2 linked regions of the Homo sapiens genome follow. The protein of the gene in region 1 purifies or fractionates together with the protein of each later gene. This does not show direct contact. Each region holds a gene or a part of one and is shown on either strand. Other genes may lie near its edges.

Region 1 (3,371 bases):
TTTTATTAATCACAGATTAATGAGCAATTCTTCCAGGAAAATTCTAGGGACATATCAGAGAGAATGCAAACATGGAACCGGGGAGAATGAAAAGATCAACTATTAAAAAGCTGTCCATGCCGGGCTCAGTGGCTCACGCCTGTAATCCCAGCACTTTGGGAGGCCAAGGCAGGCGAATCACCTGAGGTCAGGAGTTCGAGACACGCCTGGCCAACATGGTGAAACCCTGTCTCTACTAAAAATACAAAAAAACTTAGCCAGGCATGGTGGTGGGCATCTGTAATCTCAGCTACTCGGGAGGCTGAGGCAGGAGAATCACCTGTACCTGGGAGGTGGAGGTTGCAGTGAGCCAAGATCACACCATTACATTCCAGCCTGGGCAACAAGAGCAAAACTCCATCTCAAAAAAAAAAAAAAAAAGCAAGCTGTCAGTCAGTCTCTTACTAAAAAGCTTGCTAAAACCTCTGTGCTTGTGCCCAATTGTTTTACGTCTTGTTCTATATTTTAGCAAAATTGCAGCAAGGATTTCCTCTGTCCAATCCACACAAATTCTTATTCGTCAATTCAGATATTGAAGTTCTTGAGGTAAGAATGCAAATCTCACCTCTTAACTGACCCATTTCTTTTTATAGTAGACTAAGCCTCCTCCTGTTTTGCTTGTTTTTGTTGTTGTTGTTTGTTTTTGTCCTGCTTTGCTTTTTCCCAGACCAGGGAATCTTATAAACATGTTTAGTTCTTAAATCACAATTAACAGAAAATATTTAGAGTTGAGTCTAAAAATCAGACCAAGATCAATTTCACTTAGCAGCCAAATCCACAGTATAAGAAGATGCCCCTTAGCACGCTTTATTTTACTTATTCCACAAGACAATCTGTAAGGCTGGAATTATTAGTCCCATTTTACAGATGAGGAAAGGAGGACTCAGAGAGAAGTGGCTCAGGCAGCTGGAAAGGAGCATGGCTGGGACAGGACTGGCTCTTCTGATTCTCCCAGTCAGAAGACTTTCCCCTGAACCAAAGGCACACACCTTTGAGTTCAGGGATCGAATCGTTTTCCGGCTCATCATTATGCATTCACTTCAGAATACCTTTTTTTCTTTCTTTCTTTTTGGCATTGTTGTTTGTTTGGGGAGGTGGAAATATGTTTCTAAAGAAATTCTCCAATCCTGTACAGTCCAGGGGTCCCCAACACCCAGGCCCAGGACCTGTCCCGGTCTGTGGCCTGTTAGGAACCTGGTTGCACAGCTGGAGGTGAGCGGCCGAGGAGTGAACATTACTGCCTGAGCTCCACCTCCTACCAGATCAGCAGCAACATTAGATTCTCATAGGAGCACAAACCCTATTGTGAACTGCCTGTGCAAGGGATTTAGGTTGCACGCTCCTTATGAGAATCTAACTAATGCCTGATGATCTGAGGTGGAACAGTTTCATCCCGAAACCATCCCCCAATCCCAGTCAGTGGAAAAATTGTCTTCCATGAAACCAGTCGCTAATGCCAAAAAGGCTGGGGACCGCTGCCCTACACTACCGTGCATGCTCTCCCACTTCCCTGCTTCTCCCCCACTGCTTCTACAATGGCTAAGTCACATCGGGTGACAGTACTCCAAAATGGCCTTTCCTTTCTCTGGGGCATTCACAAAGTAGGGCCAGGGTAGAGGAGGGCCTGACTCTCTGTAGGACCTGGTAAAGAAACCATCTCTCAGCTGGGCATGGTGGCTCATGCTTGTAATCCTAGCACTTTGGGAGGCTGAGGTGGTCAGGAGTTCGAGACCAGCCTGGCCAAAATGGTGAAACCCTGTCTCTACTAAAAATACAAAAATTAGCCGGGTGTGGTGGCACACACCTGTAGTCCCAGCTGCTTGGGAGACTGAGGCACGAGAATCACTTGAAACCGAGGGACGGAGCTTGCAGTGAGCCAAGATCGCACCACCACACTCCAGCCTGGGCGACAGCCTTTGAGACTCCATCTCAAAATTAAAATAATAAAAAAAAGAAGCCATCTCTTCCTCACGCCTCAGACAAACCCAGACATGCCCAAGTTTTGACGTTATCTTCATTGTCACATCCTTTCCAGGGTTTCCTTTTGATTTCCACCGACCTGAAGTATGAAACATCCTCAAAGCAGCAGCCAAGTTTCCACGTATGGGAAGGTCTGAACCTGATAAGCAGACAGTGGAGGGGGAAGTCAGCCCCTTGATTGCCGGTTTGCAATTCACCCCAGGAAGTAAATGGTCCTTAATCCTACAACTACTGTAAACCCAGAAGGGAAAGACAGTACACACTGGAATTGTAAAGCCCTTGTGAATTGCTTAGGCAGAAAGTTTTCTTTCTTAAGCCTTCAGGAACCCAGAATAAGGCAGACTCTGTTAAAGGGATAAATAGAGGTGTCTGAATGTGAGTGTATGCATGCTGCGTGTGTCTGTGTTTATGTTTGTTTGTTTGTTTGGGGCAAGAAAGATTCTAGGACAAGAGCTAGGCATGTACTTCTGACCAGGTGGGTAAGCAACTCTAAGTCTGTATTTGTATTGGTCATTCTCAGTGGAAATCCCTTAGGCCCTCTAGTGGTTTTCCCCTACCTGCATATTGGTTTTCATGTTTTATATTCACTGTTACTATCTTCTGTGTTTAATTAAAATTGTTTTCTATCAACTTCAATCTTGGTTTTTTTATTTGAGAAATGGCCTGCCCTGAATTTTTAAAAAATAAAATAAGAGGCCAGCCACAGTAGGCCATGCCTGTAATCCCAGCACTTTAGGAGGCCAAGGTGGGCGGATCATGAGGTCAAGAGGTCGAGACTATCCTGGCCAACATGGTGAAACCCAGTCTCTACTAAAAATACAAAAATTAACTGGGAGTGGTGGCACGCACCTGTAGTCCCAGCTGCTTGGGAGGCTGAGGCAGGAGAATCGCTTGAACCTGGGAGGCGGAGGTTGCAGTGAGCCGAGATGGCACCACTGCACTCCAGCCTGGCGACAGAGCAAGACTCCAACTCAAAAAAATAATAAAATAAAATAAGACATAGAAAAGGGAAGAGACCTAAGGTTGCACAGACATCAAGGCTTGATTTTAAAAGAGAATTCTTTACCTCTGAAATCTTTCCAAGAAGGAACAGGGTAACCACAGGAAACTCTAAAAGTTGTATCACTTCAAGCTTTGGGATTTTTCACCCACCACAGATTCAATGAAATGGCAGTGCAGAGTACTAAACTCAGACAATTCATAACTGAGAATGATATTAATGTGTCAGAGCACCTAATCAATGGGGAGAAATTGGGGCAGAAGAGAAGAAAAGCGGAACCAGTGTAGATAATGCAACAAATGAATGGAAACTACATACTGTTTTTTGCAGCACTTACAGTCTAGTGGGGGAA
Region 2 (3,719 bases), on another chromosome or scaffold:
GGAGAGGGGTCACCACAGAGCCGCCGAGGAGTCTGGGCCGACTTCATGGGGCCGGGGAGAAGCCAGCTGGTGTGGAAGGCCAGGGCGGTGGGTAAAATAGCAACATGGTGTGACATAAATAGCACCAACTGCAGCACGCTGCAGGGAGCTCCAGAGCTTAGAAGGGAAGTTTTGAAGAAAGGAGTTCTTTGGTCCTTAAGGAGAGAAGAGAAGTATTTGCTGTGGGGGCTGGGAGGAGGGGGTCAATGTCAGGAAAAGAGTGTCACCTAGAGCCATTCAGAGGGCAGCTCTGAGGAACTTCCTGGAGATGGCTGCAGGGGTCCTTCCTGGTGCCCTGCCCTGTGAGGGGCTGGCCGCAGGGTGTCATGCGGAGACAAAGCTTTTCTCAGGGACAGCTGTGTCTTTTGACATTGCAAACATTCCCCCGCCAGCCCCTTGTCCTGTTAGCAAACTCTGAAGAGATCTTTTCACAGAGTTGCACCTGAAGTCGCACAGGAAAAGGGCGCCTTCCCACTCTAGATGCCCTTCTTGTGCAGCTTTCAGGAAGCAGGTTTCATGAGAGGCTAGTGTTTGGTGCATGAGTGATACCTTGTTCAGAATAAAACAGGGGGACAAATATTCTTTTTTCAATTTCTGATCTTTTTTTTAAAATTATTATTTTTAAAAGGGAGATGGGGTCTCACTATGTTGCCCAGGCTGGTCTCAAACTCCTGAGCTCAAGCGATCCTCTTGCCTCGGCTTCTGAAAGTGCTGGGATTACAGGCATAAGCCACATGCCCGGCCTCTGATCTCTTACTATACCACTTTCTCGCTACACCACTGCTGTCGTCTATTTGCTGAATGTGTTACAATAGGAAGCTGTGAGTAGTTTGGTGATTTTCAAACTCGTTTTTAAGGCAAAGAAAAGCCTTTAGTTGAAGGAAATTATATGCATAAGGTGTAAAAATAGAGCTCCCTGTTTGGGAGTGAGTGAAGGTCGACACCTAAGAGCCTGAAGCCCTTTGGCTACCCTTCTCCCCATCCTGTGCCATCGCCAGATGACCTGAGGGAGCCCCGTGGAACCACTAACCAGGAATACTCAATGTGGGCACCCTGGCCCAGCAGATAGGCATCACCCCGGAATGTGTAAGACCTCCTGAATCAGAATCCGCATTTTAACAAGACTGCAGATTGAGAACTTCTGATCTGGAGCCTTTCTAATCACTGACAACATCCGCAGTGGGAAAAGCAACCACACTGGCTCTGAGGGCCACTGTCTATCTTGGCTCTGCCCTGCACCCCAGTCGGGAGCTTTACCACGCCAGCAGACTGGCCTGCGTTCCCATTTCCTCAGCTGAAAGGTGGAAAGAATATTACATTAATGAGGACAGTTCATGTGAGCTTACGCTAGGACTTCATTTAATCTCACAATCTGAAATTAATTCTCACAATTCTGACAACCACGTCAGGAGCACTGTAGACATTACGACCACCCTAGGTTTTAAATATGGAAATGAAGGCAAACGGAGGTGAGGTGAACATTTGTGACTACCCAGCCCTGAAATGGCAGCTTTTCTGACTAAAAATCCAGAGGACTGCCCCCATTTCAGCGCCATCCTCTCAGGGCTGTGGCAGGGGTGACATGCCACAAAGTCATGCTTCCTAAACATCCCTACCGACACAGCCCCCATGGAAAAGAGATGAATGGCTGGCCGGCCGGGCGTGGTGGTTCACGCTTGTAATCCCAGCACTTTGGGAGGCCGAGGTGGGCAGATCACTTGAGGTCAGGAGTTCAAGACCAGCCTGGCCAATATGGTGAAACCCTATCTCTACTAAAAATACAAAAATTAGCCAGGCATGGTGGCGCGCACCTGTAGTCCCAGCTACTCGGGAGGCTGAGGCAGGAGAATTGCATGAACCCAGGAGGTGGAGGTTGCAGTGAGCCAAGATCGTGTCACTGCACTCCAGCCTGGGTAACAGAGTGAGACTCCATCTCAAAAGAAAAAAAAAAAAAAGAGAGAGATGAATGGCTGAGGGTCGATGGGCGTGGCTCGGAGATGCCCACTGCAAAATCTAAACTCTAAATCCCTGGGTTTATTCTTAACAATTTATACAAGTTTTGCATTCACTTCCTCATATAGCTGAGTTTATTTAATATAAAAATAATGTTTCGAGAAACAGAGCTTGAAGCAAAACCAGTGTTTCTGAAAGAAACACTGTTTTTGCTGATCCCAAGCACTCCACCAACACCCTCCAGGGGGCAAGCAACTGAACCTCAAATTGAGAAGCAGGATATGAAGGAACTTGACAAATTGTCCAAGGCAACTCTGAAGTACGGAATTGTTATCTCCAGAAATCCTGACATCACAAATATGACAGTTCTCTCACCCCTGGCCACACCACCGCTCCGTAACTCTCTATGGATTCCTGGATGACAATCTCCTTTCCTGCAAACCGATAATGCTCCTGAGTGTAGCTGGCGTAATCTGTAGGAACAAATTTCTGGAGGCTATGAAGAGATGGTTCTATCTTGTTGGATTCTGTGAAGCAGAAAAATAAAATGGAGTTCATGATTTGTTCAAATCCAGTGCAAAGACACACTTGGTATAATTGCTAAGATGGCATTAGATTGAATGACCTTTACATAAAGAGAAGGGATGATGCTATCAAGGAGAACGGCTGCAAATTGGCACAAAATTGAATTATATGGGGTGATGGGGACATGAAATTTGGATGTGACAGTTTTATCAGATGACAAAATGCCAAAGAATGCTCTGGGCCTTTTCTTTATTTAGGGGAGGACAGAAGATGTGTGGATCGGTCCCCACCCTAAATTTTGCTGATGGAAAAATGGCGAACTTACCAGCAAAATTGCACGAATGAGCTGTCTGGATACAGAGGAACTAGGTAAACACAAACCTGCCTTTTTTTTTTTTTCTTTTTGAGACAGAGTCTCACTCTGTTGCCCAGGCTAGAGTGCAGTGGTGTAATCTCAGCTCACCGCAACCTCTGCTTCCCGGGTTCAAGTGATTCTCCTGCCTCAGCCTCCTGAGTAACTGGGATTACAGGCGTGCGCCACCACGCCCAGCTAATTTTTGTATTTTTAGTAGACACGGGGTTTCACCATGTTGGTCAGGCTGGTCTCAAACTCCTGACCTCGTGATCCACTCGTCCTGGCCTCCCAAAGTGCTGGGATTACAGGCGTGAGCCACCACGCCCCGCCAGACCTGCCTATTTTTAGGTCTTGAAGTGAAGTAACATTCCCACGTGTTGGCTGGAGCATGTTCCTTCAATCTTTCCTACAATTGCTGTTCAAAAGGTAGAGGCCCAGCCAGCCCCACAGCCCTGGGGGAGGATGTCAGCTGAGCTCTGGCTATTAAGTTACTATTGCTTTAAATACTCCTTTAAACCCATGACCCATCTAGCAGCTCTCAGATGGCATATAAAATGAGAGGAAAAGAGCACCTGATCGGGCTGACATCAAGAGATCACAAGTGTTTGCAGGTTTTCCAGAGTGTTTAGGAATAAAAGAGCAGTGAGTCAAAGTGTGTGGAAGAAGGAGCAGGAGCAGAGGAAAAGGTGTTGGTCCCAGCGGGTGGGAAAGAATTAACAGTGCGGAGAGTAGGGGGGAGGAAGGTCAGTTTTGTTTGCACGAAACCTGCCTTTGTGGCCTGGGATATGACTGTAAAATGTTTAACCGGGGGTCAAATATGGGCTTTGGACAAAGGTAGAAGGGGGCA

Evidence for each region.
Region 2: the proteins of BPIFC (region 1) and METTL21C purify together in Homo sapiens (affinity purification with mass spectrometry; one large-scale study listed by BioGRID and IntAct). This does not show direct contact.

What each region holds. Positions count from the first base shown.
Region 1 is NC_000022.11:32,413,129-32,416,499, reverse strand, and holds the end of BPIFC (BPI fold-containing family C protein precursor), read left to right. Parts: intron 1-508; coding exon 509-585; intron 586-2,074; coding exon 2,075-2,197; 3' UTR 2,198-2,655; downstream 2,656-3,371.
Region 2 is NC_000013.11:102,688,446-102,692,164, forward strand, and holds part of METTL21C (protein-lysine methyltransferase METTL21C), read right to left. Parts: intron 2,520-3,719; coding exon 2,368-2,519; intron 1-2,367. UniProt on the Homo sapiens protein: Protein-lysine N-methyltransferase using S-adenosyl-L-methionine as methyl donor. Mono-di and trimethylates 'Lys-943' of AARS1.